7 linked regions of the Homo sapiens genome follow. The protein of the gene in region 2 purifies or fractionates together with the protein of the main gene of each other region. This does not show direct contact. Each region holds a gene or a part of one and is shown on either strand. Other genes may lie near its edges. The genes, in order: GALNT2, BZW2, SLC27A2, GOLIM4, PTPRK, ABCB10 and TVP23C.

Region 1 (4,395 bases), on a different chromosome or scaffold from region 2:
AGGCAGTTAGTGTTTACATCTTGGTTCTGAGACCCTGGGCAAGGTGTCATGACCTCTGCAGACCACACTCCGTTAAGAAAGCACAAACAGATGATTCCCTGGAAGTACTTAGCATCATCCTTGCATGACAGGGATGTAGAGAAACACAGATGATGCCCCCAAGGAGCCTTACCCCCATTGTTAGAGTTAAGGGTTAGGTTCTTGGTCCTCCATTTTAATTGCTTAAATGACATAAGGACTTACATGATTAGGAAAATGGGAAGCTCTGGTCATTCCAGCGGGGCACACGTTGAGGAGGTGGTTTTGGATCTTACTCGGGCCTCTCTGCACCATACACCTCTCCCAATGCACACCCACAGAGGCCCCTCAGGTTGGCAATGGCTAGTAGTGTGCACGGCCCCCAGAAGCAGAAGCTAGAGCAGTGCTAAGGAGAAAGGCTCACGGCATGGCCTTCTCACGTGAAGCTCTTGAGCCCTCCAAACCTCACTGGGAGTCCAAGTCCTTGGCATAACCCAGGAGAGCCCCTCACGGAGGGACAGATGCCCCAGCCTTCCTGGGCAGAGATGTGCTCCTGCTTGCAGGGTTCATCTTCACCCCAACCTGAACCGCTCAGACCCTAGAACCTTCTAGCACAGCTACATAATAAATACAAACACCAAACCACAATAAAGCAGCTCCTTACAACAAATCTACCCCCCAGTCTCTGGGTGAATGCCTCCTTAGATATGTAAATCAACACTCTTCCTACACGATGACACAAAATGCTGGCTGATGTCTCATTTCAGCTAATAGTATGCAAACTTCTGAAAACCACACTGTTTTTGAGAAATGGCCACCTACACGATACGCTGCCCTACTGGGCGACCCTGGCCTGCTGGATTTCCACTAAACCATTAGGGGATACCCATGGAACAGGGTGACAGAACTCTCTTTAGAGGGTTAACAATTCTGAAGCCTTTTGTACTCAAGTGACTTCAATCCAAGCTTTCCCTAGAGGTTAATGTATCATTTTTTTAAAACAACCCAAAAGGAGTTTGACTCACGGTCTCTCCACCCGTGCAGTATAGTAATCGAGCCTAAAGAAGCTTTCAACATCAAACCAAGGCAGAGAAATCCTCAAAGATGAGATGGTATCACTGACTTCAACATCATAAAACAATGGAAAAATAATAGGCTAGGCTAGTCTTTTCTTTTAAAGTAACAAAAACTTTCAAAGTCTCAAAACTATTAAAAATGAGTGGCCTCATTTTCCCCTTTCCTTCTCCCCTGTCCTCCAGGGTACACTCACCCAAGGACGAATGTAAGTTAACAACACTCAGCAGCCCAGGAGAATTCGCTCAGAATGTCAAGCATTTGAAACAAAAGGCTTTAATTGAAACAAGCAAAAAAGATCTCCCCCACTCCAAACCCTAAACAAACAAAACACATCTTTTCATCTTTTATGCAGTAAATATAAGGCTACCAATATAGACCACAATGTGCAAAATTTTGCTGTGCCTAAACCTGGGTAAAAATAATTTGCATGGGGTATTTAAAAACAAAAAAACAAACAAACAGAAAAACAAATGAGAACCATTCGCAAAGGTAGTCGAGAAGGGATTAAGTGCCAAGGCCTCCCTGCCCCATCGGATTTTCATGATTTCAATTCAATCAATCCCACCAGCCTCGCCGGGGTTCATTTTCCACTCTCCACCACTCAGCATGAATCTGAGCTCCTGGACTGTTTCCCTCTGTTTTTGCAAGCCTGCAACATTCCAAACACTTGGGTTCAGACGCCTTGAAAGAGTTTGCATTTCCCTTCAAAGACTTTATCCGTATTCTGGCATCCTCCACTCTAACCTAGGGAGGCACATTTTAATGCCCAACTCATGAGACTTTCAAGAGCAAAAGGGGTGTTACATATGTGTTTGCAAGGATCGATTAAGCCCAGTGAATGGTCACTCTGAAGCCTTTTAAATTTTTTTTCCAATTGGCACCCTGCCTTTTGCAGAGCTGAGGCACTTCTCTGTCCTGAGATTTGAGGCTTGTACATACCTAGGTTCTCTCCTCCCCACACATCCATCATCATGTCGTACTTCCCCAGTTCTTCAAAATAGAACTTATCCATCACAAACAGCCCACCAGCAATCATGGGGGTTCTAAAGAGGCAGAAAGAAGAGGGGGGAGGGAGGAGAGGGCAAAGTCAAGGTTAGATTGCCAGCACCCTTGCGCCAAGGCCAAGCCTTGATTCCCTAACAATAAGCTGATCTTCAGAACAGCCACACTGCCACTGTTTTCTGCTCAGTGCCCAGCATGCCACTCTCTCTGCTTCACCACTGCTGCCTTCAAATGCCTCCCCCACTGTCCCTGCCTGGATGTTCCCACAGTGCCAGGGGCTGGACTGAGCCTCCCCTATGTGGGAGCGACTGCTGGGGCTGGATCACTACTCACTGACATGCTGCCATAGGCAAAGAACTCGGCCTTTCTGTGTGTCAGTTTCCTTATAGGGTAGCTACGAGGATTGCAAAAAATCATGGGCATAAAGCCCTGAGCACGCTTAGGAAATGCTCCACAGCACCAGCTCTCATTATCACTATCATAGATGAGACTCCACCTCCTACAAGGGAACCCACCATGCTCCTCACTTCATCATCCCAGGAAGGGGTTGACAACAGATGTACACTGAGCTCCCTACTTTGTTCCCAGAAGCGATGCTGTGCGAATTCAGTGTAAAGTGCTGGGAAGGTCTATGGCACACTGCAGATGTTGGCTAAATGTCAGCAAATATATTTCAGCGCTAAGTACTCTGTGAATGCTATCTCACTTAACCGTGTGCCAACTTGGAAGAGGTGGCCCCCTTCTCTCCCCAGCTAGAGAAGGCATCCTGACTCTCAACCAGAAAGCCCACCGCCCGGCCTGGGAATCTTAAAAGCATGGGCTTCATGAGCATGGGCTCCTTCCTCTGCAGGAGAGCAAAGGCCTGCTGGGCAGTAGCAGCAGTAAGCCTCCTGCTGCCCACCAAGCCCCTTTTCCTGGGCCTGGGGTCAGCTCGGAGATCCTGCTCTGCTACAGAAACGCTCTACATTATCAACATACAGGAATGCACAGACCTAGCAGATAGGCCTTATAAACCTATGTGAGACTTCAACTGTGGAAAAGAAATCTCCAAGGATTTTATTCTATGACCTGGTGGAAGGTGCTCATCTTTGAGCTGAGACGAGGGGAAACCGGAGGGCAGAAGGTGAACAGCCCCCACTGGGTCTCCAGGCGGTGCGGGCCCAGCAAAGAAGCTGGAACCTGGGGTCTCATCTGGGAGGGGCACCCTGAAGGATGCTGGCACTTACTTTATAGGGGCGACTGGGTTCCCCTGCCGGGACCTTCTCTGCTCAGGCGTCATGTAATCCCACTTGAATACCAAGTTCCAATCAAAACCTGCCAGCCAGGAAAAGAAACAGGGTGTTGACAAGAGACTGGCCACTTCCTCCCGACACCCCCATTCCTCACAGCTTAAAAATATTCGATGTTTGGACAGAACTCAATGAAAACCAAAACAAAGCCAAAAAAGAAGGTGTGGAGGAGAGAGAAGGGGACTGGGGGCGTGGGTGTAGCTGAAGAGAGAGACCGGCAGTGAGGGTGAATGTTGAAATCTTCTCCCTGCCCCTCCCTAAAGAAAATGTGAGTCAGGCTTTTCTAATATTGAAATGCATAGGAAAAAATGAAATATGGGGAGAGAACTGGGGTCTGTGTGGTGATAACCAGGGCATGTCCAAGGGCTGTAAGGATGTGAGGAAAAAGAGCATCCAACATGAAAATCAAGCCGTGGTACCTCCAACACTGCCCCAGGGGAAGGCAATGCTGGGGAGGGAACGAGGCTTTGTCAGTTCCCTGGGCCAGCAAACTTCAGACTGTATTTGCAGCAAGAATGGAGTGGGAACATGCTGGGAATATGAAAACTTTAAGGGAAAATGAGCCAGCGGAAGTTGCCAAGCTGGGCAAATAAGCTTCAATTTCAGATATATTTGGCACCTGTTGCATTTCATTTTTGGAATCCACAGACCCCTGAGGATAGAAGAGCCTAGACCCTGTACCCGGACTTGGTTGTGGGCATCTGCAGGGCCTCAGGTCTCGCTCTTGCTCCCAGGGTCACACACATAGTGCCTCTTGGAGGCCAGCAGGCTCCACCTGCGGAAGCTGTCCTGGTGCATCAGGAGGCCACTTCTTGGCAAACACATGGCTCATGGTGCTGCATTTCCAATTCCAAGGGTCTGACAGCAAAACCTAATGACTCTAGGGCATGCATCTTTCAATCCTCTTAAGCTCTCTGCCATCAGGCTTTTTGTCAACAGGGCTTTTGCAATGCCTAAGTTTGGATTTGTCTGCATGCTTTGAATTCATAGTCTGTCCGCCCTGACAGCC
Region 2 (4,395 bases):
AGGTGGATAGATATCTGATAAAGCAAATACGGCAAAATATTAGTTATAGAAACTAGATGGTGGGCATGTGAATGTTCATTGTTCAATTTGTTCAACTTTTCTGTATGTCTGGAAATTATTGTAGTAAAATGTTTGGGGGGTGGTGAGGAGAAAAATAACTTTGCTATGGAAGTAACATAGTACCTCTGTTATATGGCTTTTCCTTAAACTCTGCCATCTTTTACAAACTAGAGGTTTAAACCCTTGCTTCCTAATTGGAAAAGGATTAAGAAAATGCTGGGTATGGTAACTCATGCCTGTAATCCTAACACTTTGGGAAGCTGAGGTAAAAAAATTGCTTGAGGCCAGGAGTTTGAGACCAGTCTGGGAAACAAAGCAAGACTCTCTTCTCTACAAAAAAAAATTTAAAAACTAGCCAGGTGTGTTGGCACACCTGTACAATCCCAGCTGCTCAGGAGACTAAGGCAAGAGGATTGCTTGAGCCCAGGAGTTTGGGGCTACAGTGAGCTATAATCACATCATCTTACTACAGCCTGGGCAACAGAGAAAGACTATCTAAAATAAAAAAAAAGAAATAAAGAAAATGGTTAAGAAATTAATCATTTTCCCCAGCTCATCCAATAAATGACCAAGGGAGATGGGATTATCCTACTCAGAGGAGTAACTATAAAGAAAGTTAAATCTCAGTTTTAGGCTCCTAGTTTCAAGCGTAGTTTTTCTTTACGATACAGATTACAGCCTAGTGTTAATTTATATTAAATTTTATATTGGTTTTATGAGCTAATGATAATGCTAAAAATTCATCTTAAGTTGTTTAACATGAACTTTCAGTTAAGGTGTAATGCATGTTTTGTTGTTATAGCCGTTTTTGTTTTTTTTTTAACTTAGTTTCTTTGCTTATTCAAGGGAAGAAAATCAGGTTTAGTTGGTGTCTATATGAATGATAGACCAATTAAATGCTTTTACTTTCCAGTTGCTGGAAGACCTGGGTCAAATTGGTATATAAGGACATGGATTTCTTATGTAACAATAAATAGAAAATTAGGACAGACCTCAGGCTGAACAGCAGTATCATTCAGGACTTAAGTATTTTTCTCCTGTTATCATTCATAGCATTAACTTCATCCCAAGGATGGTGCCCCCTCTAGTTGTTATAAGATGCCTGCTGACACAGTTATGGCATATTCTTCCTGGTTCAGGTTCAGTGGAAGAACACTTCTCCTGAACAGAGGATAATTTATCTTTCCTTCAGCTGATTGGCTGACACAGGCTGCATGACTAGTGCAGGTCCAGTAGCAATTGCCAGGGGCGTGCCTTGGGCAGATGAGCTTAAGCGAGGTCACTAAATTAATCATCAGAAAGGGGTGGTACCAGGACTTAGACTAATCAGTAGTCACCTGGACTGGATAAAAGGGGACCTCTTTTAGGAAGGAGGTAAAGAGAATAGAGGCTGCTTAGGCCACATTATCATTAGCTCATAACAATAGTAGAACCTTCAGTTTAGAAAAATCAGTTAAATGTTTCAGTTACATCTTAACTCTTCATTAAATAACCGCAACATAAATTTAGAAATTTGAAGTGTTCATAGAACTGTCTTCTTGTTATCTGATTATTTCTATTTGGAAATAAGTGGTAATGTAAATGTGGACATGTGATTAAATGGTTTCCTGATTTAACATAACTAGCTTAATAATGATTTTTTTTTAAATCCAGAAGAGTTTAACTTGAAACAGCCTTGGTATTTTTATAGCTTAACTCAAGAATATTTTAAAATGCTTTTTATGGCTGCGTGCAATGGCTCATGCCTGCAATCCCAGCAATTTGGGAGGCCAAGGCAGGTGGATCACCTGAGGTCAAGCGTTCAGGACTAGCCTGCCCAACATGGCGAAACCCTGTCTCTACTAAAAATACAAAAATTAGCTGGGTGTGGTGGTGCATGCCTGTAATCCCAGCTACTTGGGAGGCTGAGGCAGGAGAATCACTTGAACCCAGGAGGTGAAGATTGCAGTGAGCCGAGATCGTGCTACTTCACTCCAGCCTGGGCGACAGAGTGAGACTCCATCCCCCCAAAAATAAAAATAAAAATAAATAAATAAAATGCTTTTTATAAAAAGCAAAACTAAGGTAAATGATATGTGTTCATCTATTCGTAGCAATACTTATTGTATCTATCACTATCAGTGTTCTTGTACTGGCATCCTTTATTAGCAAATTACTTGATAAAGGTGACATTACAGTTTTGTGTCTCCTAATTTACTTTCTTGTGCCTCAAGATCACTGTTATAAAGATGAAATACATATGAACCAGAGGGTGAAATAAAGGCAATAACACCAAAGATACTGGGTGTGAAATATGTTTTTGACCAAGGTAAAATAAAATAAACTTGCAGTTAGACCAGGTTGGATTCAAGGAGTCCAAATTTGAAAAATATTTTAATTTATTTTCCTTTTCCTGAAAATGTTCTAGTTTGAGTAATGAGAAGAGGAGAATTTGCCTAGAGGTCTATTGACTTTTCATTTGTACCAAAATTAGTCTTTTAGTTATTTACACATTTCAGGAAACCTGGTTGCTTTGCACACCATCACAATTGGTTTTGCTCGTAAAAGGAATGAAATTCTCTTTTGTTTTTCAACAGGCATTGCGGCCTCATTTGCTGTCAAGCTTTTCAAAGCATGGATGGCAGAAAAAGATGCCAACTCTGTTACCTCGTCTTTGAGAAAAGCCAACTTAGACAAGAGGCTGCTTGTAAGTGTTTTCTGGTTAAAGAGTTGTATGTATGATGCCTTTCTTGGAGCTTAAGCAATGCCTGCAATGTAGTATATGAGTAAGATCCCTGGATCTGTGTTGACTTGGAGCACTGTTCCTTTTATTTCTGTGTAATTGGTAGTAGAAGCTAATTTCATTTTAATCTTTATTTTGTGAACAAATGGCACAATAAAATTAAAGAATTGTGAAGAATATAGACTTCCAAATTTGTAAGTTTGTTGACATAGTATTAACATTTCATCAGAATTAAGACTTTGTTTTATAGCCATAACTTTTTTACTTTTTTTTTTTTTGAGACAGAGTCTGGCTCTGTCACCCAGGCTGGAGTGCAATGGCACAATCTCGCTCACTGCAACCTCTGCCTCCGGAGTTCAAACAATTCTCCTGCCTCAGCCTCCCGAGTAGGTGGGATTACAGGTGCTCTCCACCACACCCAGCTAATTTTTGGATTTTTTTTAATAGAGACGGGGTTTCACCATGTTGGCCAGGTTAGTCTTGAACTCCTGACCTCAAGTAATCCGCCCACCTCAGCCTCCCAAAGTGCTGGGATTATAGGCGTGAGCCACCACACTCAGCCTATAATCATAACTTTCTAGACATTTTAAGGTTTTAATATGATAAAAATTTCATCAATCTCACTTAATCAAATACTTGTGATGTCTGTCTTGAGTAGCAGTCAGACTGTGCTAATCTCAAATGTGTGTTAAATAGTTTGCTAACAAAATAAAAGTTTAAACAAGATTTCCCTGGAAATACTTAAGCTGTTGCAGAAATTAAACAAGTTAATTGTGTCACAATTGCTTGATTATATTTTTATTTCTCCATCTTTGTGTTTTTCTAAGAAAATCCAGAAAAATATTTTGTTCTTGTAATTTCTATCTGCTCCCTACAATTTCTTTCTTCTTGATGCAGCAGCTGTGAAATGCCAAGATTTCTCCAGGTGGAATTGCTTTTACAGTTCTAGGATGAAGTGTAAAAATAAGACACAGCGCTGCCATCTCTTCACCTGGCCTGTTCTCTGTTGTTCTCTTCCAATGTGTTTCAGTGTGCAAGGGTCCAGTCCCATGAGATAATTCTAAGACTATCTCTTTTCCTCAAGAACACATGAAAGTAATTTTAAATGTAAATACTTGCAATTTAAATCACTTAAGAATACTTTGTTTCTTGAAGTTTACCTTAAATAGATTTGTGTGTTTAAAGTTTTTAGATTATGGTAAAAAAGGTACAGAAGTCTAGATTCTAGTTCATAATAATTTTCATTCCTCATGTTTCCTGAATGTCTACCCTGTGCTGGGCATGGTACCACAAGCTGCAGAGCCAGTAGAGAACAGGATAGAAAAGTTGCCTGCCCTCGTGAAACCTACTTTCTAGTGGACTTAGGGCAAATCCCTGTAAACAGAAGCAAAAGTCACAGAAGATAAGTGAATAGGTTGCTGAGGAAGGTGGAGGTTCATATGAAGGGAACATATTTCTTGTCCATGAGGCTGTGGGTTGTCTATAGATTAGCTCTATCTTGGCTAAGCCTGGCTTAGTTCCACATGCCTTTTCATTCGGGCACAGGCTGAGGGAGCAGCTCCCATCTGGGCCATTCTGTCTTCATGGCAAAGTACCAGAACACAGAGACTGAA
Region 3 (4,395 bases), on a different chromosome or scaffold from region 2:
CTTAAAACAGTGAGATGCTTCATTAAAGGATATTGCGATGTAAGAACAATGGCAGTCTGGACCTAATAATAGTCATTTTTTTAAGCTGTTTCCTGAAGGGACAGGAAATGGAAAAAATAGGGACTCAGAGAGTCCAAAGAATGGCCAACAGCAGTGGCCTCACTTCCACAGAAGGAAATATTTAATTTTCTAATGCCAACTTTAGTCCAGAATCAAGGCACAGAAATAATCTAATCTACACTCTTCCCAACTCTTTGGACTGCCCAAGGAGTAACTTAAATGAGTTGTTTCAATGCACTTTGTCTCAAAGGCTTAGAATTCTCTCATATATCTTTGAATAATTCCCTAGTAATGTCTAGCACATAGTAGGCAGGCAGTCAATAAGTGTCTGTTGGGCAGGGCACGGTGGCTCATGCCTGTAATCCCAACACTTTGGGAGGCCAAGATGGGCAGATCACCTGAGTTCAGGAGTTGGAGACCAGCCTGGCCAACATGGCGAAACCCTGTCTCTATTAAAAATACAAAAATTAGTCGGGCATGGTGGCGGGCATCCGTAATCCCAGCTACTCCGGAGGCTGAGGCACAAGAATCACTTGAACCTGGGAGGTGGAGGTTGCAGTGAGCCAAGATCACACTACTGCATTCCAGCCGGGATGACAGAGTGAGACTGTCTAGATAGGTAGATAGATAGATAGATAAATAGATAGATAGATAGATAGATAGATAGATAGATAGATAGATAGATGCATACAAACATACATACATACATACATACATAATGGATAGATAATGTCTGTTGAATTAATGGGTTCCATTATTCTGGTTGATTGTGACAGGCTTTCTCTCCTGAAGCTTAAGGACCACTGGGTTGGGCATGAGGGCCTGAAAAATGATGTAACAAAATCAGATGTGAAAAAATCCATTTAAACTCAATCTACCCCAGGCCCAGCCTTACCCTACCACAGGCTTACTTACCTCTCAAAGGTCCTCCTAATCAATGACTCTGTCCAGCTCTCTGGCAGTACATGGTAGGACAGCGGTGCTCTCCTTGGGTCTCAGTGCAGCAAGTAAGCAGGTGGTGAGCACAGGATGGGCTGGAAAGGACCTGTGAGTAGGGTGGTGGAGGACCCTGTACAAGGACAGAAACCCAGACACCAAATGATTAATATATCCAAGGGCTGGGATTCCCAGCCTAGTAGCCCAAGGAAAGATAGCTTAAAGATATTCTCTAAGATTTTTCTTCTCTCCCTGCTCTTAACTAAAGCTTGCAAAGGAGGTGATTGTACATCTCCATCCAAGAACAAAACTAGCACTTTGCTGGCATATATGGGAATGCACTTTATTTTCTTCAGAAACAGGGACTGAAGAGGTAAAAACAAACTCTGAATCAGGTGTTGTTATTGAATCTGAAAGAGAAGGATAGAGTTCAGATTATTCTATATAATAGGTGCTAGTATTTGAAAAGGACCTTCCCACAGCCTCTGAGAAAAGGGAAGTAGATCATTGGTAGAAAGATGACATGGTTGCTTACAGATATCAAATGCTAACAATTATGTAAGGCCTTATGTGACCTGGTAACTCATGATAAGGAATTACCTTTGATTCCAGGGCTATTTAGAAAGCAAGAGTTCATATAAGCAAGAACTTTAACTTGGAGAAATAAAAATTAACATCAAGGAGATTACTACTTAATTACCTAAATGTAAAATGAGTATGTATTTCCTTGTTAAATTTTTGCTTACTCCTGGTGGAACTTAAACATTTTTATGACCTCCGGGTGATTTGTGTGGGGAAGAAGGAGGAGCACATGCATGTCTCTCTCTCTATATATAGTATTATAATGTGCATCATCTTGCTGTACAAAATACTGTCATTCCAAACTGCCAATGATTGAGATGCAAAATTACAGTTACAAATGGCATTTTAGGAACTATTTTTAGGTTGTCTTCAAGGACTATGTTATTAATAGCACCAGTTTGCATTTCAGTTGCTTTTCTGAATGAAGAAAAGAGATAAATCTTCAAGCTTGACTTGCTCATCAACCAACCATTTCATGATCAGAGTACATTTCCTTTCACTACCTTCCTTTTGGACCTTACCTTCTTGGTAAATATTTCTGGGGTGTTTTGTTTAATCCAGTCAGTTACTCATTCACTGAGGCAGTCTAGTAGCAGAACAAGCTACTAGACTGAATGTTTTCCTATTGGAAAGCTGCAGGTTTAGCCTGAGCACCTGACACCTTAGTAATGAAGATTGATTCAGCTCACCACCTACCCAATCTCTCTGCCTTCTAGCAATGGACTTGTTTATTCAGAAAATTCTTCCTTTTTCCTTAAAAAAAAAAAAAAAGGCAGGGGCAGACTTAATATGCTACCTTAATTTTTTAAAATTTTCTTTGAACAGACTTTAAAGGGGATGGGGGAGTAGTGTTGTAATCACTTGATTTTTCAACACCCAAGTGTGTGCTCTTTCTCTGTGGGTTTATTTCAGTCTACAACTTAAAACTAGACTGATGAAGAACCGACTGATGGAGCTGCTCTACACCCTTCAGGCAACTTTCTGTGACCACTGTTTCTCATACTCAAACTTTTAATAAAGCTTGAGGTTTTGCTCTTCAAGAAAAGATCATCCATGTTACTCATTAAATGCAGATCCACATGATTGAACAAGCACTGAGCAGAAGGCCAAGCAGCCAGCCTCTTCCAAGAAATAAGGCACTTTGCTAGAACTTAATCTGAATGGCTCATACAAGGAGGTGGGAACCTCAGAAGCCCAGAATGATTCTTTTCATTTTGCATGTGACCCTCCATACACTGACTTGGTGAGCCTCTTCTCATTTGTAGAAATAAGATTACTGGTATCTATATCACAGAGTTGTTATGAAAATTATGTGAAGTGATGTATGTAAAACTATACCAACAGTTCTATGCAAATGAAAATTTTAAATGTTTGTTATTAGTAAAGAGAGAGGTGGGTGCATGCTCTGATGTGCCACCCAGATCCCTGCTTTAGGACTGACGGACTCACTCTTCAGCTGCTGGGAGCTCTCAGCTGAGACCTCTCCCAGGACTTCTCCTTGGTTGAAGAGAGACACTTTGCCCAAGGTTAAGCACCACCACCCCAGCCTGAGTCCATTGGACTGGTCAATGGGCAGGTGTGAAGGCACAGCCTACCTCCCTTAATTTAGGAGGTAACTCTGAAGGGCATCCCAGGTCCAGAGTCCCCTTAGGATTAGAGGATCTGCTGAGGGAGACTTCTGTTGTGACTGCATTACAGTTCAATGTCTCCCTCTATCCAGTCTGCTTCCCTTGCAGCCTCACAGGTCCCATTCCCAAGAGCACTCCTGCATGCACATCTCGGAGTCTCAGAGAACCCAACCTTGACAAATAGAATTATAGGAGCTTACATGTTCTGATTGATAGATGAGCAGACTTTACAATAAAAATTATAAAAGGTAGATAGATATTTTATGCTTGCATTAGAAAATATGTAGGCCAACCAGGCAGTGGCTCATGCCTGTAATCCCAACACTTTGGGAGGCCAAGGTGGGCGGATCACTTGAGGTTGGGAGTTCAAGACCAGCCTGGCCAAATTGGTGAAACCCCATCTCTACTAAAAATACAAACATTAGCCGGGCATGGTGACAGCCGCCTGTAATCCCAGCTACTCGGGAGGCTGAGGCAGGAGAGCCGCTTGAACCCAGGAGGCAGAGATTGCAGTGAGTTGAGATCACGCCATTGCACTCCAGCCTGGATGACAGAGTGAGACTCCATCTCAAAAAAAAAAAAAAGAAAAAAGAAAATATGTAGGCCCAAACATATCTACAAAAGACTCAAGAAAATAAAAGACATTAAATATCAACTAGATAGTTGACAGGTAGATTCACATCCAGAATTTCCTTTCAAATTTCTTTTTTCTTTCTACATCTTTAAGGGAAGAAAGGCTTCCATAGTGTGTCCAGATATGGTTGGCAAGCCGCTGGAAACTCAAGTCTGCCCAAATAACAAATCTACACCAACAGCCTAGAGGAGATGGAAGGAGATGGTGTAGGGCAGGGGCAATGGCCCTCCCTTCAGATTAGATGACTTGCATAAAAGGTCAGGAATCACAAACTACATGCCTGCAGAGGGCCAGCTGGGAACATGAATGAAGTACACATGAGGTGAAGTTGCTTGGACTGTGATCAAGCATGACACCAGCTTAATTACATTTCCTTTTATTATTAATTTTTCATGCTAATACCTGAGTACATTTTTCTTTTTTTTTAAATTTTTTTTTTGAGACAGGGTCCCACTCTGTTGCCCAGGCTGGAGTGCAGTGGCATAATCATGGCTCACTGCAGCCTTGACCTCCCAGGCTCAGGTGATCCTCCCACCTCAGCCTCCAGAGTAGCTG
Region 4 (4,395 bases), on a different chromosome or scaffold from region 2:
AAGGTATCAGTTGCTTCCCTGTGAAGTTCCATGGAGTCAGACCAAGGGAAAAATTTACCGTCTAATAGTATAACAGGACTAGATTTTCATAAACATGGCTGGAAGGGGCATGTATGGTGGATTATATGAGGTTGTGTGTGCCTTGGTCTCTTAGGAGTCCCATGAGGGCAAAGGCTGTCATTTTCACCATTACCTCCTCAGCACCACACTGTGCCTGACACTCATTAGGGGAATCAATGCATGTTTATTCAAACAACAAACAAAAATTATTCTGAACTGTGGCGAGTAAGTTCATCCCAGGCACTTTTGTCTTTCTGAGACTTTGCTTCTGTGTCTTTGCTTTTTGAAAGCCAAATAAAACAAGAAAATATTTTGTTCAAGTAGCTCCTTTGCCTCAACGGCCTATGATGGACGATGGATATTGTTGACTGAGGCCCTAATTTCTGAATAATGGCCTTTATTTGCAGTATTTCATTTTGAAATTTTAGAAATTTCTTTTCTAATTTGCCTTTTCTTTTTTTAGTGGTGGTGGTGGTAGTGGGGAAGAGAGGTGGTAAATGGTAATACAGGATCATTAAAATATACAACTTTTGTTTTGCAGCAGATGGAAATGTTCTACCTAATTTGAATAAGTGGCTTCAAAGTCCCTTTCTTAATTTATTCTTTTGTCATTTCCTCTCTAATTATGGTGCTACAAAACTTGCAGTATAATTGTGCATGAATAATTATTTCACAAGCAGGCTAAAGTATTTTTTTGTTTGTTTTTGTTTTTTGTGGATTCACTTTTGACTTCAGTAGCATTTATTTTGGATTTCCCATGTGTAAGCCATTTAATGTACATTTTCTGGTGGTATGCAACTTTTGCTTCCCTTTTCCAAGACAAATGACATTTTACTCAACAGCACTGTGTACCACCTGCATAGATGGGCTTTTAGGACATCAGGCTCTCCAGTCTTAATACTTGTTTAGTTAGGTGGGATTGCTTGACCTGGCTTGGATTAAGATCAGAATTAATGACTTTAAAAAGAGTGGTCTTTTTAAAAATGACTCTTGAAAAAATTTCAGTAGTTTAGACCTATAATCTGATGATGTGCGTTCGTTAAGTGAGCGTATTTAGGTCACCTTCAGTTTAAGAATAGATTATACTCCATAGATTCCTTTGAAAGTGGGTTACTTGTAACCCCAAGTTAACAAGTTTTATTGTAGAAGAGCCCCATAACTAGAAGATGGTGGGGATGGCATGCAGAAAGGTCAGAGACTAGGCAAACCCCTTCCACTATAAAAATATCTATGTCTGCCTGTTTATCTATCCCTCTTAGCAATCAGTCATCTATTTATCTCCCATACTGGCACCTTAATTATACTGAGGAGTGGGACAGAGGTCACATACTGGTGGCAAAGGTAATAACAATCTTTGGCCAGCACAGTGTTTATATAACCTTTAAAGTTTTTAAACTGCTTTCAAGTGAGCCATGCTCCATTGTCTGTATCTATAGGCAGTGTTTCTCAGTCTAGACTGCCCATTAGTATCACCTGGTGGCTCCCAGACCAATTAAATAACAGTCTATGGGGGGTGGAACCCAGGCTTCAAAAGTCTTTAAAGCTCCCCTGGTGATTCCTGTGTGCAGCCAAGGTTGAGAGCCACACCTCTATAAAAAATCTTAAAACTGAGCCTTTCCGTGCATTTACTTTACTTGTTTGGCCCCAGAGACACTTGAATTTTTTATCTGAGTATGTGATTAAAAGCAGACTGGTTTCTAGACTGTAATTCAGTTCTAGTTCTACAACCTTTTGTGTGAACCTTGACGTTTTTCTTATTTATAAAGTGGAGATTAGAATAACCTATTTTATAGAGGTATTGTGAGGATTAATGAAGATGATAGACTGTAGAGCTCTTAGCACATACTTGGCATATAGTAGGTACTGCTCGTTAAAAGTTAGCTGTTATCAGAATCCCTCTTTGAGGTAAGCTGCTTTATCCCTTTTACTCTTGCCAGGTTTGTCATGGGTAATTTCAAATTTTGAAATTGGCAGAATTTGTTTATGTAGCTAACCACCTCCTTTTATTGTACCTTAAATGAACATCAAGGAATATGCAAACATCCAGTGTACTTTAATCAGAAGAAAGGACCTTCCTTGACAATTTAAACTTGGACTGCGGTTACTGATTAACTCTGTTCTGGATCATATCAGATTAGGAGAGGGTGTGACTGCTAAGGTAATAATTATGTGCTGTGAGATCTGGGAGAGAGATATAACTATTTAAATTTTTATAAAAGGCATTTAGTGTAGAGGCAAAGAGCCTGACATTCCTAAAACACAGTATTGCAATGCTTTTGGACTTCCAGGGATAAGGAGAAACCATCCAGAAAAAGTTTATGTAAGGTTTATATGTTCCTATTCCAGATGAATATGTTACAACTATTTAAAATTTTAAAAAAAGGTCACAAATGTGACGTGTAGAAGTGCAGAGTTACAAGTGTGGATTTCTCACATGCATATATTGAGTTGTGGTGAAGTCTGGGCTTTCAGTGCACCCAAAGAATGGACATGTTTACCCCACAGGAAAATTTCCAACTCTCACCCCCTGCTAGCCTCCCACCTTTTGTAGTCTCCACTTCCACTCTCTATGTCCATGTGTGCCCGTTGTATAGCTCCCACTTGTAAATGAGAACATGCTATCTTCGACTTTTCTTTTTCTGAGTTATTTCCCTTAGGATAATGGCCTCCAGGTCCATCCATGTTGCTGCAAAAGACATGATTTCATTCCTTGTTACGGCTGAGTAGTATTCCATGGTGTATATATACCACATTTTCTTTACCAGTTCTCTGTTGATGGACGCTTAGGTTGATTCCATATCTTTGCTGTTGTGAATAGTGCTGCAATAAACATACAAGTGCAGGTATCTTTTTTGTATAATTATTTATTTCCCTTTGGGTATATACCTAGTATTGGGATTGCTGGAGTGAATGGTAGCTCTATTTTTAGTTCTTTGAGAAATCCTGATACTGTTTTCCAGAAAGGTTGTGCTAGTTTACATTCCTACCAACAGTGTATAAGCATTCCCGTTTCTTTGCATGTTTGCCAACATTTGTTGTTTTTTGACTTTTTAATAAAAGCCGTTCTGACTAGTGTAAGATGGTATCTCACTGTGATTTTAACTTGCATTTCTCTCATGCTTAGTGATGTTGAGCATTTTTTCCTATGTGTGTTGTCTTCTTGTCTAGCTTCCTGTTAAAAATGTCTTTTCATGTCCTCTGCTCAGTTTTTAATTTTTTTTTTTCTTGTCAAGCTGCTTGAGTTCCTTGTAGCTTCTGGATATTAGCCCTTTATCAGGTGCATACTTTGCAGATATTTTTTCCTATTTTGTAGGCTGTTTACTGTGTTGTTTCTTTCGGTGTGCAGACATTTGTTATTTAAGTGTTTTTTGCATTGGGCTCCTCTAACACTCAGGATGGCCCACTGGCCTAAGCATGAATACATCTTGTCATTGGTTACTTCTTTGCTTTCAACCTTCCCTAAATCTACTTTTAGAAAGGAAACATTGGCCAGGCACCCTGTCTCTCGCCTGTAATCCCAGCACTTTGGGAGACTGAGGCGGGTGGATCACTTGAGATCAGGAGTTTGAGACCAGCCTGGCCAACATGGCTAAACCTCATCTCTACTAAAAATACAAAAATTAGCCAGGTGTGGTGGCACATGCTTATAATCCCAGCTACTCAGGAGGCTGAGGCATGAGAATTGCTTGAACCTGGGAGACAGAGGTTGCAGTGAGCCCAGTCACCCCCCTGCACTCCAGCCTGGGCAACAGAGCGAGACTCTGTCTCAAAAAAAAAAAAAAAAAGAGAGAAACATCTTCAGCACAGAACCAGGCTTTTTTTATTCCTTCATCTCCAGCGTCTGGTGCCTGGTAGTACCTATGTAGTACTTTTTCTTGGCCTATTAATGTGCATATATATGGTGGTATTGTGCGCAGTGAGGTATAATAGATACAGGCTGAGGCGTCAGAGCACTTGGATTTGATTTTCTGCTATCTTATTTTGCTAGCTGTGTGGTCATGGGCAAGTTATTTAACCTTTCTGTGACTCAATCTATTCATATGTAATAATCAGGATAATAGTGCTTACAAAAGGTTATCTTGAGAATCAATAGTGTTAGCTGATGTGCAGTGCTTAGAAGGGTGTAGCTTGCATTTTGGATGATTGAGGAAACATATACAACAGAGTGGTTCATAGACCTCAGCAATTTAGACCACAAGTGTGGGCAATGTGTGGTAGGTGTACTAATTTTCAAGTGCAGCGTTAGAACTTAAAACATGAACTAGACATTGTCTATTAAATGGACATCTTCACTGAAGTACAACTTAGAGTTAAATGAAGAGACTATCATTTTTG
Region 5 (4,395 bases), on a different chromosome or scaffold from region 2:
TTAGTACCCTTTTGCCAGGTCTATGAGGGATTAGGAGCTAGGGCCAAGAATTCTGTAATTTCAAAGCCTTACATATGTTCCTGCATTTAGAGGGAAAAAGAATAGGAAGTCTTCAGTCTTCTCCTCTCTTATCAGCTCCTCCTCATGCATATCCCCTCCCCTGTGGCTCAAAAAATGAGTAGATAGCCGTCAGTCTGCTTTGACTTACCTTTGCATGGAGCAGACATTTGATTGGAAGAAGAGCTTCCTTTCTTCTAACTTTTCTCATTGTATTAGTTCATTCTCACACTGCTAATAAAAACATACCTGAGACTGGGTAATTTATAAAGGAAAGAGTTTTAATTGACTCACAGTTCCACAGGGCTGGGGAGGCCTCAGGATCCCTGCAATTATGGCCGAAGGGGAAGCAAACCCGTCCTTCTTCTCATGGTGGCAGGAAGGGGAAGGAGTGCCAAGCAAAGGGGGAAGCCCCTTATAAAACCACCAGATGTCATGAGAACTCACTCACTATCTGGAGAACAGCATGGGGGAAACTGCCTGCATGATTCAATTATCTCCACCTGGTCCTGCCCTTGACATGTGGGGATTATTACAATTCTAGGTGAGATTTGGGTGGGGACACAGAGCCAAACAATATGACTCATGAACCTTCCTGCCTTTCTTAGGAGACACTCATCCCAGCTGCACGTGTAACTTGGTAAGGTTTTGAGGTCATTTAGAAGTAGCCAGGTAAATTATTATTGTCATCTACTCAGATTTATCCTGCAGTCTTCAGCCAACGCTGAATGCCATGGTTGGTAGCATTTCCCAAATGGTGGTAGCATCAGTGAAGTCCAAGAACCAGTTCCTGTGCTGATGTTAAGATTCTTGAAGGACTTAAATAGTAGTATGATACAAATGAGTTACAAGATCATTGAAAATTTTTGTCAGCATTAGGGAACTCTATAATCTACTAATTATTATTATTATTATTGCAAATAATTAGTTTAAATCAAATGGCAATTGTCCAGTCCAGATAAATATTGTTTTTACTACTTCTCCCTTTGGAAAGAGATAATATATTGTGTTCTAATCAAGGAGGACTTGGTTAACAAGGAGCTATCTCCCCGCTTATGTGGGGACAGGAAATATATTGCTGTTATGCTTTGGTGCTTCAGGATCTTAAATGGTTGAGACTGTCATTATGACCTTTGATATATGTTAGAAATGCCCAGGAAGCTGTGGAAGGTGGATTGTCTGCAAGATGTGCAGAATATCCTGGTAGTGTCCACATAATGTAAAAGCACAAGTGTTTGAGCTACTTGTGGTTTTTCTTATTTGGAGTGGAGAAGAGTAAAACAATTTTACTTGCACGCACACACACTATACACATACCCAGATGATTGATAGACATACCAGGGGTTTTGTGCTTACTTTGCCTTCAGCCTCTCAGAGACTGATTACGTTTGGAAAATTGAAATAGCCCAACAGGAACCTTACAGAGGATGTTAACCTCAGAAGCTTTTTAGTTTCTTCTTTTGTATTTGTCCTGTATTTACGTCTTTCAGTAAAGTAAAAACTCAGTTATTGACTTGAATTGCTTTGGAAGCATTGAAGTCTTCCACCAAATTGATTCATTACTGTACTAATTCAGTTCATTCCAGTGGTCTGAATCTCCTATTCCATGGTTTAATCATCACTCTGGCTCCTTCTGCATATGAAGCTATTGCATCTTACTGGTCCTACATTGAAGTGTATTGTATCTGTTTGTACAACCGATCATACATTTTAAGTTTTTATATTTCTCCATCTACCTTGTTTCTTCACAGAGCTACAGGCAACCAGCTGCTTTCATCGTCACACAATACCCTCTGCCAAACACTGTAAAAGACTTCTGGAGATTAGTGTATGATTATGGCTGTACCTCCATTGTGATGTTAAACGAAGTCGACTTGTCCCAGGTTAATGGCTATGGATTGCTTTTATGTACTTATATACAACTTAATAGAGTAGTAATGAATTGCTAAAATCTGCTTTATACTCTCCTAACTAGAAAAAATAATACTCTTTTTTTTTTTCTTTCAAAACGTTCATCATTTAGGGCTGCCCTCAGTACTGGCCAGAGGAAGGGATGCTACGATATGGCCCCATCCAAGTGGAATGTATGTCTTGTTCAATGGACTGTGATGTGATCAACCGGATTTTTAGGATATGCAATCTAACAAGAGTAAGTCACTATCGGATCCTTTGAGCTGATCTAGAATAGGTCAGTCATAACCAAGATGTGGTATAATTTTATTCAGACAACAGGGAGACTACAATTAATAAGCACTATATCATCCACCTCAAAGCTAGTAACCATCTTATGCCTTAGTACTCGAATAAAAATACAGGAAAACAGAAATGCTGGAAGCTAGGTTTTTCGGTCAGTCACTAGACTAGCATATTCTCTCAGGAAATACAGATGCACTGGCTCAGTCAAGTTGGACAGCCTAGGCCTGGCCTCTGAGTGTATGTAGACTTATCTTAAGGATGACTGCATGTTTTATTAGTATTGACATCCAGCCCAGAAATGGCATGTGATAAAAAAAATAAGAACATTGCAATAACAATAATGACAGAGAAACTGTACTGCAGGAGGAAAGAGACATGTTGGATCAACCATTATAGAAGGGTTCCATGTCACTGTTCCAAGTTCATTATTGATTATCCTACCTGCAATTTCATCTTCCTAAACGTCTCAACCTATGGCTCTAAGCAGATCTAAAGGTAGAACCAGTGCTGCTACCACCATGCCTTTTCCCAGCAGCAAAGTAGTAACTGTATCGTCTTTCTCTGACTCCTCATTTGCTTTCCACTACATGACAAATTCAATGTGGGTGGGGAAGATCTTAAAAAAAAAAGTGCTAATAAAGCCCGGGCACAGTGCCTCATGCCTGTAATTCCAGCACTTTGGGAGGCCAAGGCGGGCAGATCATAAGGTCAGGAGTTCAAGACCAGCCTGGCAACGTGGTGAAACCCCATCTCTACTAAAAATACAAAAATTAGCTGGACATGGTGGTGGCATGCCTGTAGTCCCAGCTAGTGGGGAGGCTGAGGCAGCAGAATCATTTGAACCCGGGAGGCAGAAGTTGTAGTGAGCTGAGATCACGCCACTGCACCCCAGGCTGTATAGAGCGAGACTTCGTCCCCCAAAAAAAGATATTAATAAAAACAATTTAGATTATGTAACCAAATAACAAGCAGAATTGGAAAAGAAAACATTAGTAACTTTCATGAAATTAAGCTCTTTTTAGAGAGAAACATTACTCTGTTTTTTAAAGCACCAGCTCTGTGGGTATGTATTTTAAGTGTGTGATTAGGATTATCATGTTTCAGTGTCTCTCATATCAAAATGACTACGTGTGTGTCTGGTTAATAAGTCTATATGTATATAACTATGAGCAGGGAATGGAATCATATCGACTCCTATTGCTCATTTCAGTGGAGAAAAAAAGGATAACTTCAATCATCTCATAATATTCATGCATATCTTAGATGTTAATTTAAATGGAATCTCATTATGTCTGCACATCTGTTACATTATGGTTCTAGTAATATTTGAGTTGGAAAAAAACAGAACTGCTGAAGACAGTAAGGCTTGTCTGTTAATTGAGCAGTTTATGTGAAAAATATTCTAGGAACAGGAACTGAAATGTTATATTTTTGTCAGCATATTTATTTATTTGTTTGCTTACTTATTGAACTGCCTCTGTATTTGGTATTCTGGTCCTTATTAGTACATGATTTTTTTTCTGTTCTCACTCTCATCATTTAATATATTTAATATATTTAACTGCATCAAACATTTAACATGTACCAACAAGTTTGTAGAGTACTAAGTAGGGCTTGTAATCTACCAAAAGATGCATGGGCTCTTGCCAATCTGATATGATTTACTCATATATTACATATTCTTCCTGATATTTTTATTTCAAGGTTTAAGGTTTTGATTCATTCTTTCAACACTACTACTTTTGGGGAAGTATTATGCAAAGTTCTACTGATACAGAGTGTAGGAAAAAAAGATTTCCGTGTACTTAAGGAATCTTTATTTTTTTCAGGAAGAAAAGCATTACATGAAAATTGTATAATCCTTTTTGTATAAAAGTGATGCATTTTACAGTGAAAGAGTAAAGAATATAGAGTGTTTAACTGGGTGATCTGACATAACTGTGTGATCAGAGATGACCTCTTTGCGATAGTAGTATTTAAGCCAAAATTTAATGAATCAATAGAAATTAGTTGGGGGTTGATGTAACCCACCATCCTGGTTTGCCCAGGGCAGGAGCTTTCCCAAGACACACAGCCTTCAGTGCTAAGACCAGAGAAGTCCCAGGCCAACCTGGGACAAGTTGGTCATTCTATTTGGGATTG
Region 6 (4,395 bases), on a different chromosome or scaffold from region 2:
AAAGGCCTCAGAATGAAACTATTTTGCTAGCACCTTGACCCTGGACTTCTAACCTCCAGAATTGTGAGAAATACATTTCTGTTGTTTCAGCCACCCAGTCTGTGGTATTATTATGGCATCCCAAACAGACCCCTTTGAATTGCTCATCTGACCTACACTGAATTCCCTTTCCTTGTTACAAAAAGTACCCCAAGTGATTTTTCCCAGCTTGAACTCTTCCTGATCCCCAAAACTATTCATATTTGGAAAACGGCATGTTAGTGCAGGAAGGGTCCTCTTCCAGAGGTTTGCTTCTCTCTTAGCTGGAAAATCATGAGATTTCAAAGCTGTTTTTCATTCCGTAAGTCAGATCTAATAGGCAACACACCCTTCCTCTCTAAGTGCTTCATGGGACACAAAGGACAGAATCCAAGCTTTTCCACTTGTGAGAAAGGATTATTTACAGTTCTTATTCCACGAGTCTAGAACTGCACTGCCCAAAACGATAGCCCTACTGGAAACTTGAAATGTGGCAGGTATGACTGAGACATTGACTTTTTAATTGTATTTAGGTTTAATTAAAATTTAAAAGCCTATACTCCATTCAGTTATTGGCAAACTATTAAGTATGTCTGGAAAACTTGAGTATGTCAAACTACTTTTTCAATTGTACATTTTATAAAATCTAAATATAGATCAAGTACTTTCAATGAAAATTTAGCATCCGAATTAAGATGTTCCTTAAGTAGAGAATACACACCAGATTTGGAAATTCAGTTGACCTTTGAACAACATTGGTCTGAAATGCATGGGTCAACTTATACATAGATTTTCTTCCATCTCTGCCACCCCTGAGACAGCAAGAACAACCTTTCTTCCTCCTCTCAGTCTACTCAGTGTGAAGACAATGAGGATAAATACTTTTGTGATGAGCCGGGCGCAGTGGCTCACGCCAGCAATCCCAACACTTTGGGAGGCTGAGGCAGGCAGATCACGAGGTCAGGAGTTCAAGACCAGCCTGGCCAACATAGTGAAACCCCATCTCTACTAAAAATACAAAAAAATTAGCGAGGCGTGGTGGCTGGCACCTATAATCCCAGCTACTCGGGAGGCTGAGGCAGGAGAATCACTTGAACCCGGGAGGAGGAGGTTGCAGTGAGCCAAGATCGTGCCATTGCACTTCAGCCCGGATGACAGTGCGATACTCCGTCTCAAAAAAAAAAAAAAAAAGCTTTTATGATGATCCACTTCCACTTAATAAATAATAAATATATTTTACCTTCCTTATGATTTTCTTAATACCATTTCTTTTTTCTAGCTTACTCTGTTATAAGAACATAGTATATAATACATATACCAAATACATGGTAATTGACTGTTAATGTTATCAGTAAGGCTTCTGGTCAACAGTAGGCTATTAGTAGTTGAGTTTTTAGGGAGTCAAAAGTTATACTTTGATTTTTGACTGTGTGGGCTTCAGTGTCCCAACCCCTGCATTGTTCAAGGGTCAACTATAATATGAAAGAAATAATATAAAATACCTCATTAATAATTTTGATATTAATTACATCTTGAGATGACAATATTTTGTTTATACTGGCTTAAACAAAACATTATTAAAATTAATCTCAGCCAGGTACAGTGGCTCAAGCCTGTAATCCCAGCACTTCAGGAGGCCGAGGCAGGAGGATCACTTGAGGCCAAGAGTTTGAGACCAGCCTGGGCAACATAGAGAGACCCTGCCTCTACAAAAAATATATATATATATTCTTTAAATTAGCCAGACTTGGTGGTGTGTGCCTGTAGTCCCAGATACTTGGGAGACTGAGGTGGGAGAATCACTTGAGCCCAGGAGTTTAAGACTGCAGTGAGCTATGATCTTGCCACTGTACTCCAGCCTGGGTAACAGAGTGAGACTGTCTCTAAAAAAATTAAAATTAAAAAAAAAATTAATCTCATTGGCTTCTTTTTGCTTTTTTAAATGTGGCTACTAAAACATTAAAATCACATATGTGGCTTGCATTGCCTCTCCAATGACCTGCAGCACTGGGCTGAATAGAAATACTGGTTGAAGAGGTAAGGCAAGCAGACAGGACAGGCACAAGCCACCCAGTTAAGGAAAGGAAAAAAGGCCATGGGAGTGAAGAGCTCTCCCCTTAAAAGAGCACAGTTCGACTTACACACACAGAGGAATGGAATTTAGTCACCGCTTGGTGCCACCCACAGGGTAGTACCCAGTGCTCCTTCTACCTGATGCTCTTTTCTGCCTTAATACCCCGGGTACACACATCTCAGAATACCCAGCAGTAACACATGAGTCCATTTTCCAGATAATCACTCATTCTGGAGAAATGAAGGTACAAGAGGCCATGCAGGCAGAGGCAATCCCCACGTTCCAGCAGCTTCTGCAACAGCACTTTTGGCTCTAGGCACTTACAGAATGATGCGAACCGCTCAGCTTGAGCTCGTCTCACACGTGAGAGGCCTGGTGCAAGCCAAGCCCTGGCAGGAAGGTACCAAGGGGAACCAGGCCCACATACCATCATACTGATGCCTACGGAAGCCTGGGCCCCGGCCCTGAGCCCATCTGAGAGGTTTTCAGTCACTGAGCGCCCCAGGAGTGCAGTGTCTGATGAGAGGCGGTTAATCAATTCTCCTGTGCGAGTCTTGTCAAAGAAAGCAACCTCCTGCCTCAGAATGGAGGAGAATAATGAAGTTCTCAGCCTATTCACAATGCGCTGACCTGCAAAAGCAAACACGAACAGGCTCACCAAGGGTAAAGACATCCATTACCATTATGGGGCAGCCACTTACTGTGCAGCAGCTTGGCCTGGAGTTGTAACCCTCCTGAGCAATGCAGCCTCTGAGCGTGTCTGCTGCACTGTATCCCATGGGTGGAAAGAGACTTTCCCAAACCAGGCACATTAACTGTCATGCACTACTAACACTACTTTTCTCTTATTAACTACAGACTGTGGGCGCTAGTGAGAGGATACAGGAATAAAATAAATATAACATGACTCAGAGGCCTTTTTTATTTTTACTTTTTTTTTTTTTTTAAGAGACTGGGTCTTGCTCTATCACCCAGGCCTGAATGAAGTGGCACGATCACAGTTCACTGTAACCTCAACCTTGTGGGCTCAAGCCATCCTCCCACCTCAGCCTCCTGGGTAGCTGAAACTACAGATGTCCGCCACTACACCCAGCTAACTTATTTTTATTTTTTATATAGACGGAGTCTTGCTATGTAGCTCAGGCTGGTCTCAAACTCATGGGCTCAAGCAATCCTCCTGCCTCAGCCTCCCAAAGTGCTAGGATTACAGGCATGAGCCACCACACTTGGCCGAGATTTTTTTAAGGTATTATTTACAAAGAAGTTTTATTACATTAACTTCCAAAAGCTCATTTTGTTCCTCCCTGGAAACCCTTTCCTGTATTGAACCTTCAAATGGCAAGAATTGGTTAATTATCCACAGAGATAAATGGAGAGCAACAGACTTCGAGTTGGTGTCCCAGGTTCTCTCATTATTGTGGCAGTGACCTGCCTGTAAAAACAAGACCTCTTCAGAGAAATACTAACAAAGTTATCATCCCAGCTGCTACTTAAGGAGAAACACAAGCATGGGGCATGTAAATGGGTTTCTGAAGCCTTCAGGAAGCCTCAGAAGTCCAGCTTCATGGCCAGGGGCCTCATTTTCTTTTTTTTTCTTTTTTTTTTTTTTGAGATGGAGTCTCGCTCTGTCCCCCATGCTGGAGTGCAGTGGTATGATCTGGGCTCACTGCAACCTCTGCCTCCCAGGTTCAAGCGATTCTCCTGCCTCAGCCTCCTGAGTAGCTGAGATTACAGGCACACACCACCACGCCCGGGTAATTTTTGTATTTCTAGTAGAGACGGGGTTTCACCATGTTGGCCAGGCTGGTCTCGAACTCCTGACCTCATGATCCACCTGCCTCAGCCTCCCAAAGTGCTGGGATTACAGGCATGAGCCACGGCACCCAGCCCGAGGGGCTTATTTTCAAACCTCCCATAAGACCGACATGATTGCCCTTACAGCTCAACTTCAACTATAAAAGAAGAGTTGAGAGTGCTTGATCTAAAATAATCTGTAACTCCAACATCTGGGCAGTCATTGGACTCTATCCCCACTTAATGGGATGCCAGGAAGAGAGGAAGAGAATGGAGCCTGGAGCACATGAGATTTGAGCCCGAACAAACCCACAGGACTCTACATCTTCTTCAGGATGACTCACATCCCTGAGAGGAGAGACTGTTACCTGAAGTTTGCATGAGGTAGACACGAATGGCATTGGCGGCAGCACCACACAGAAACACGGCACTGAGCCCTAGGCAGAGGCGGGTCAGGTTGTCGCTGTAGTCCACAGTGGGGTTGGTATAGATGACATCAATGATCTTCC
Region 7 (3,899 bases), on a different chromosome or scaffold from region 2:
AAAGTTCAAACAGGTCGCCAGATACGATGGCTCACGCCTGTAATCTCAGTACTTTGGGAGGCTGAGGCGGGCGGATCACCTAAGGTCAGGAATTCGAGACTAGCCTGGCCATTGTGGTGAAATCCCGTCTCTACTAAAAATACAAAAATTAGCCAGGTGTAGTGGCAGGCTGGTAATCCCAGCTACTAGGGAGGCTGAGGCAGGAGAATCACTTGAACCCAGAGGGCAGAGGTTGCAATGATCCGAGATCACACCACTGCACTCCAGCCTGGGTGACAAGAGCAAAAACTCTGTTTCAAAAAAAAAAATTCAGACAAGTAGTTCAGGGCTACTATACCCACAAGATGGGATTCAGACAGTATCTACCTCATTTCTCTGCCATTCACAAAACGAAGCCTTTATCACATAGTCCAAGATGGCTGCTCTAGTTTCTGCTATTGTGTCTACCTTTCAGGAAAAAGGGGGAAGGGATGGGCGTGCCTCCTCCTTTTAAGGATACTTCCTGGAAGTGTATCCATTGGCCCAAACTTGGTGGTGTGGCCACACCAAGATACAGCAATAAAATCTAGGAAAAGTTTTATCTTTATTCCAGGATGCCATTCCCTAGCTAATTAGGTGGGAAATCTGTAGAAGGAGAAAAACGAATATTAGGGAATACAGGGTAGCTCCTACCACATGCATATTCTAAAATTCATTGTTACTTGGTTTAGGATGCAGTTCAAATAACACAGTTACCTAAAGAACTACACCAATGTATCCTTTGTTAGACTCTCAACCCTAAAGATTTAGGTTAGATCTTTCAGATTGTATTTTAAAATGTCTTTAGTGCAGTATCAATTCTCACCAGACAGAACAGCTAAGTAAAATAAACAAGCTCTTAACAAATTATTAATTTTTAAGAAAGGAAAGGGCATTTAGAGCAAATATTTTCTCTAAAAAATACTAATATATCATGTTTTATATCCTACAGATATTCCTGCAATCTGTTTTCCTTGGGAAAGTCACTCATTAACCTGAAGTTCAGTTATATCATCTAAAGTATTACATATTTATCATGAGGGTTACATGAGATTACACATGTCAAATGCCTTGTAAATAGTAGAATTTTATACAAATATAAAGTTTTGCACCTTCAAAGCTATCACTCCAATAAGACACTTATTCAATTAAACAAATAATCTTAAAAACTATTTTAACAATGTACAAATATATTCACAACATAATCTGCTGATTAAGACTTCAACAAAGTTTATAATACCTACAACAGAATTTACAGATGCCTACAATAGTTTGTAGATTGGTTTAATTTACAGTTACATAGATTGCTTTAAGAAATACCATTAATACAAATGCATAATTTACAATATCCCCATTATAGCAAGAAAAAAATAGATTCAGAAAATAAAATGTCTTTTAGGCATTTATTATGCCAAGTATGTAAATTATTATTCTCATTATGACATGAGAATAATGCTCTTTTAGTGGTAAAAGATCTATTAGCTCAAGGTCCACTGAAGAACTTTCAATCTAGCTATCCTTTCTGTAAAATAAATAGAATAGCAGCAATCTCTGGGTATTCCTTAAACTATGATGATTCCACTTATATTAACTGGGCCTTAAGTAGATAACTTCTTACAAACAAAAATAAAATTTTATAAAGTAGTTAATACCACTGGCCCTAATTGTTTTCACTTGCTTGCATACGTCTAAGAAATTTCCCCATGAAGTACATATTAAAAACTAACAATTATTTCTAACTTATACATAAGCCAAAGTGCTCACTCTTACCATAGAAGCAAAACTTTCTCCTGAAAACAATCTACAGAAATAATATGTAAACATATAGAGCTTTGAGACAGACTAAGAACATCCTCCTATGTTCTATGGATCAAAATGCAAAGGTCTCCATTATCTGTGTAAATGAACACTTTCATTAACTTGGGATATACAGGTATTACATGGCCGTGTGCATACCTATGGAATGTGCATACCTACACCACAGAACAAATCTTAACAATGTTTCTAGTGCCAACATATACTTTCTAGCCCCAACTGCTGGAAAGGAAATAAAAACTTAATATGAAAACTACTTTTCCTTTTTATAAATAAAGTTTTTAAGTGGAAAAACAAAGCCAACACTCCTCGTTGCAACATGGACTAAGCTCTAAAAGGTTGAGTCAAGAATCTCTTCAGTTGTTCCCCAATGTAACAAAGCACATAAGCTTTCTCTATTCAGGAAGTCTGATCATCTCCAGTGTTCCGCAAAAGACAAAAAAAGAACTCCTTAACATCAAAGTTATTTCACTTCACACACCATGGACTTGGGGCCTAGGCCTAGGAAAACATTCTATATTTCTAAGCAGAGCATTACCTTACATACAATGGCCCAATCACATTAAAAAGTAGACATGCTAGGCTGGGCGCCGTGGCTTACACCTGTAATCCCAGCACTTTGGGAGGCCGAGGAGGGTGGATCATGAGGTCAGGAGATCGAGACCCTCCTGGCTAACACAGTGAAACCCCGTCTCTACTAAAAATACAAAAAATTAGCCAGGCGTGGTGGCGGGCGCCTGCAATCCCAGCTACTCGGGAGGCTGAGGCAGAAGAATAGTATGAACCCGGGAGGTGGAGTTTGCAGTGAGCCGAGATCGCGCCACTGCACTCCAGCCTGGGCAAACAGAGTGAGACTCTGTCTCAAAAAAAATAAATAAATAAAAAAGTAGACATGCGCTAATGAAGTAAATCCATGGATACCATCATCCACCCAGCTGTCCAGTTTGTCTCATTTGAGCAGACGCCGGATACCATGTAAGACACTAACCCTATCCATGTTATGCCAGGTTTAAGGTTTAATTTCACCTGTATTCCATGTTCCTCCCCACCTTCAGAAACACTGAAAATTCTAACGAAAAAAACCTAATAAGCACATACATGAAAGTTACCCTAAGGTGGACCACAGTAAAGGTATATTGGAGCCATGCAAAAATCCTTCAGAATGAGATGATCATGTCCCTACATGAATATTCATTTTCTCTACTTTTCATCTTCTGTGAGAGAAACTGTACAGTAGAATAAAAAGAACAATAAATTTTGAGTACAGAGGGCTGGGTTTAAGATCTAGCTTTGTACCACTATTAGCTGTATAATCTTAAGTAAATAATTTAATTTCTCGGGGCTTTAGTTATCTAAAATGTAATCCCTGGACCAGTGCCCTCAGTACCACCCAGAAACTTGGGAGAAATGCAAATTATGAGACTCCACCCCCAGATCTACTGAATAAGGAGTCTGGAGGTGGAACCCAGCAATCTTGTGCCCTCTAGGTGATTCTCATGTATGTTCGAGTTTAAGAATCCCTGTCCTACATAATATCACTTGCCCAACCTACTGTACTAACCAAATGCAAGGTATTACTCATATAAAGACCTAGTCACGGCCAGGCGCCGTGGCTCACGCCTGTAATCCCAGCACTTTGGGAGGCGGAGGCAGGCGGATCACGAGGTCAGGAGATCGAGACCATCCTGGCTAACACGGTGAAACCCCGTCTCTACTAAAAATACAAAAAAGCCAGGCGTGGTGGCGGCGCCTGTAGTCCCAGCTACTCGGGAGGCTGATGCAGGAGAATGGCGTGAACCCGGGAGGCGGAGCTTGCAGTAAGCCGAGATCACGCCACTGCACTCCAGCCTGGGCGACAGAGCAAGACTCCATCTCAAGAAAAAAAAAAAAAAAGACCTAGTCACTTTTCCCAAGAGATTTAACCAATAATTATTTACCTATGACTACTACTCATCCTGCTGAAAACCCTGATGTTGAGGTATTATAGTAAAATCCTTATGTTCTAGGGGGAAAAAAACATCTGAGTACAAATGTTATGGTCTTCTTGTGATTCAACTGTTCTCCCT

What was found.
Region 1: the proteins of BZW2 (region 2) and GALNT2 purify together in Homo sapiens (co-immunoprecipitation; one large-scale study listed by IntAct). This does not show direct contact.
Region 3: the proteins of BZW2 (region 2) and SLC27A2 purify together in Homo sapiens (affinity purification with mass spectrometry; 2 studies listed by BioGRID and IntAct, with this or other methods). This does not show direct contact.
Region 4: the proteins of BZW2 (region 2) and GOLIM4 purify together in Homo sapiens (co-immunoprecipitation; one large-scale study listed by IntAct). This does not show direct contact.
Region 5: the proteins of BZW2 (region 2) and PTPRK purify together in Homo sapiens (co-immunoprecipitation; one large-scale study listed by IntAct). This does not show direct contact.
Region 6: the proteins of BZW2 (region 2) and ABCB10 purify together in Homo sapiens (co-immunoprecipitation; one large-scale study listed by IntAct). This does not show direct contact.
Region 7: the proteins of BZW2 (region 2) and TVP23C purify together in Homo sapiens (affinity purification with mass spectrometry, with the first as the bait; 2 studies listed by BioGRID). This does not show direct contact.

What each region holds. Positions count from the first base shown.
Region 1 is NC_000001.11:230,248,200-230,252,594, reverse strand, and holds part of GALNT2 (polypeptide N-acetylgalactosaminyltransferase 2 precursor), read right to left. Parts: intron 3,412-4,395; coding exon 3,324-3,411; intron 2,139-3,323; coding exon 2,035-2,138; intron 1-2,034. UniProt on the Homo sapiens protein: Catalyzes the initial reaction in O-linked oligosaccharide biosynthesis, the transfer of an N-acetyl-D-galactosamine residue to a serine or threonine residue on the protein receptor.
Region 2 is NC_000007.14:16,687,161-16,691,555, forward strand, and holds part of BZW2 (eIF5-mimic protein 1), read left to right. Parts: intron 1-2,636; coding exon 2,637-2,746; intron 2,747-4,395. UniProt on the Homo sapiens protein: Translation initiation regulator which represses non-AUG initiated translation and repeat-associated non-AUG (RAN) initiated translation by acting as a competitive inhibitor of eukaryotic translation initiation factor 5 (EIF5) function.
Region 3 is NC_000015.10:50,188,284-50,192,678, forward strand, and holds part of SLC27A2 (long-chain fatty acid transport protein 2), read left to right. Parts: intron 1-4,395. UniProt on the Homo sapiens protein: Mediates the import of long-chain fatty acids (LCFA) into the cell by facilitating their transport across cell membranes, playing an important role in hepatic fatty acid uptake.
Region 4 is NC_000003.12:168,089,220-168,093,614, reverse strand, and holds part of GOLIM4 (Golgi integral membrane protein 4), read left to right. Parts: intron 1-4,395. UniProt on the Homo sapiens protein: Plays a role in endosome to Golgi protein trafficking; mediates protein transport along the late endosome-bypass pathway from the early endosome to the Golgi.
Region 5 is NC_000006.12:127,974,468-127,978,862, reverse strand, and holds part of PTPRK (receptor-type tyrosine-protein phosphatase kappa isoform b precursor), read left to right. Parts: intron 1-1,808; coding exon 1,809-1,940; intron 1,941-2,080; coding exon 2,081-2,206; intron 2,207-4,395. UniProt on the Homo sapiens protein: Regulation of processes involving cell contact and adhesion such as growth control, tumor invasion, and metastasis. Negative regulator of EGFR signaling pathway. Forms complexes with beta-catenin and gamma-catenin/plakoglobin.
Region 6 is NC_000001.11:229,544,980-229,549,374, forward strand, and holds part of ABCB10 (ATP-binding cassette sub-family B member 10, mitochondrial), read right to left. Parts: coding exon 4,255-4,395; intron 2,723-4,254; coding exon 2,520-2,722; intron 1-2,519.
Region 7 is NC_000017.11:15,535,895-15,539,793, forward strand, and holds the end of TVP23C (Golgi apparatus membrane protein TVP23 homolog C), read right to left. Parts: 3' UTR 1,086-3,899; downstream 1-1,085.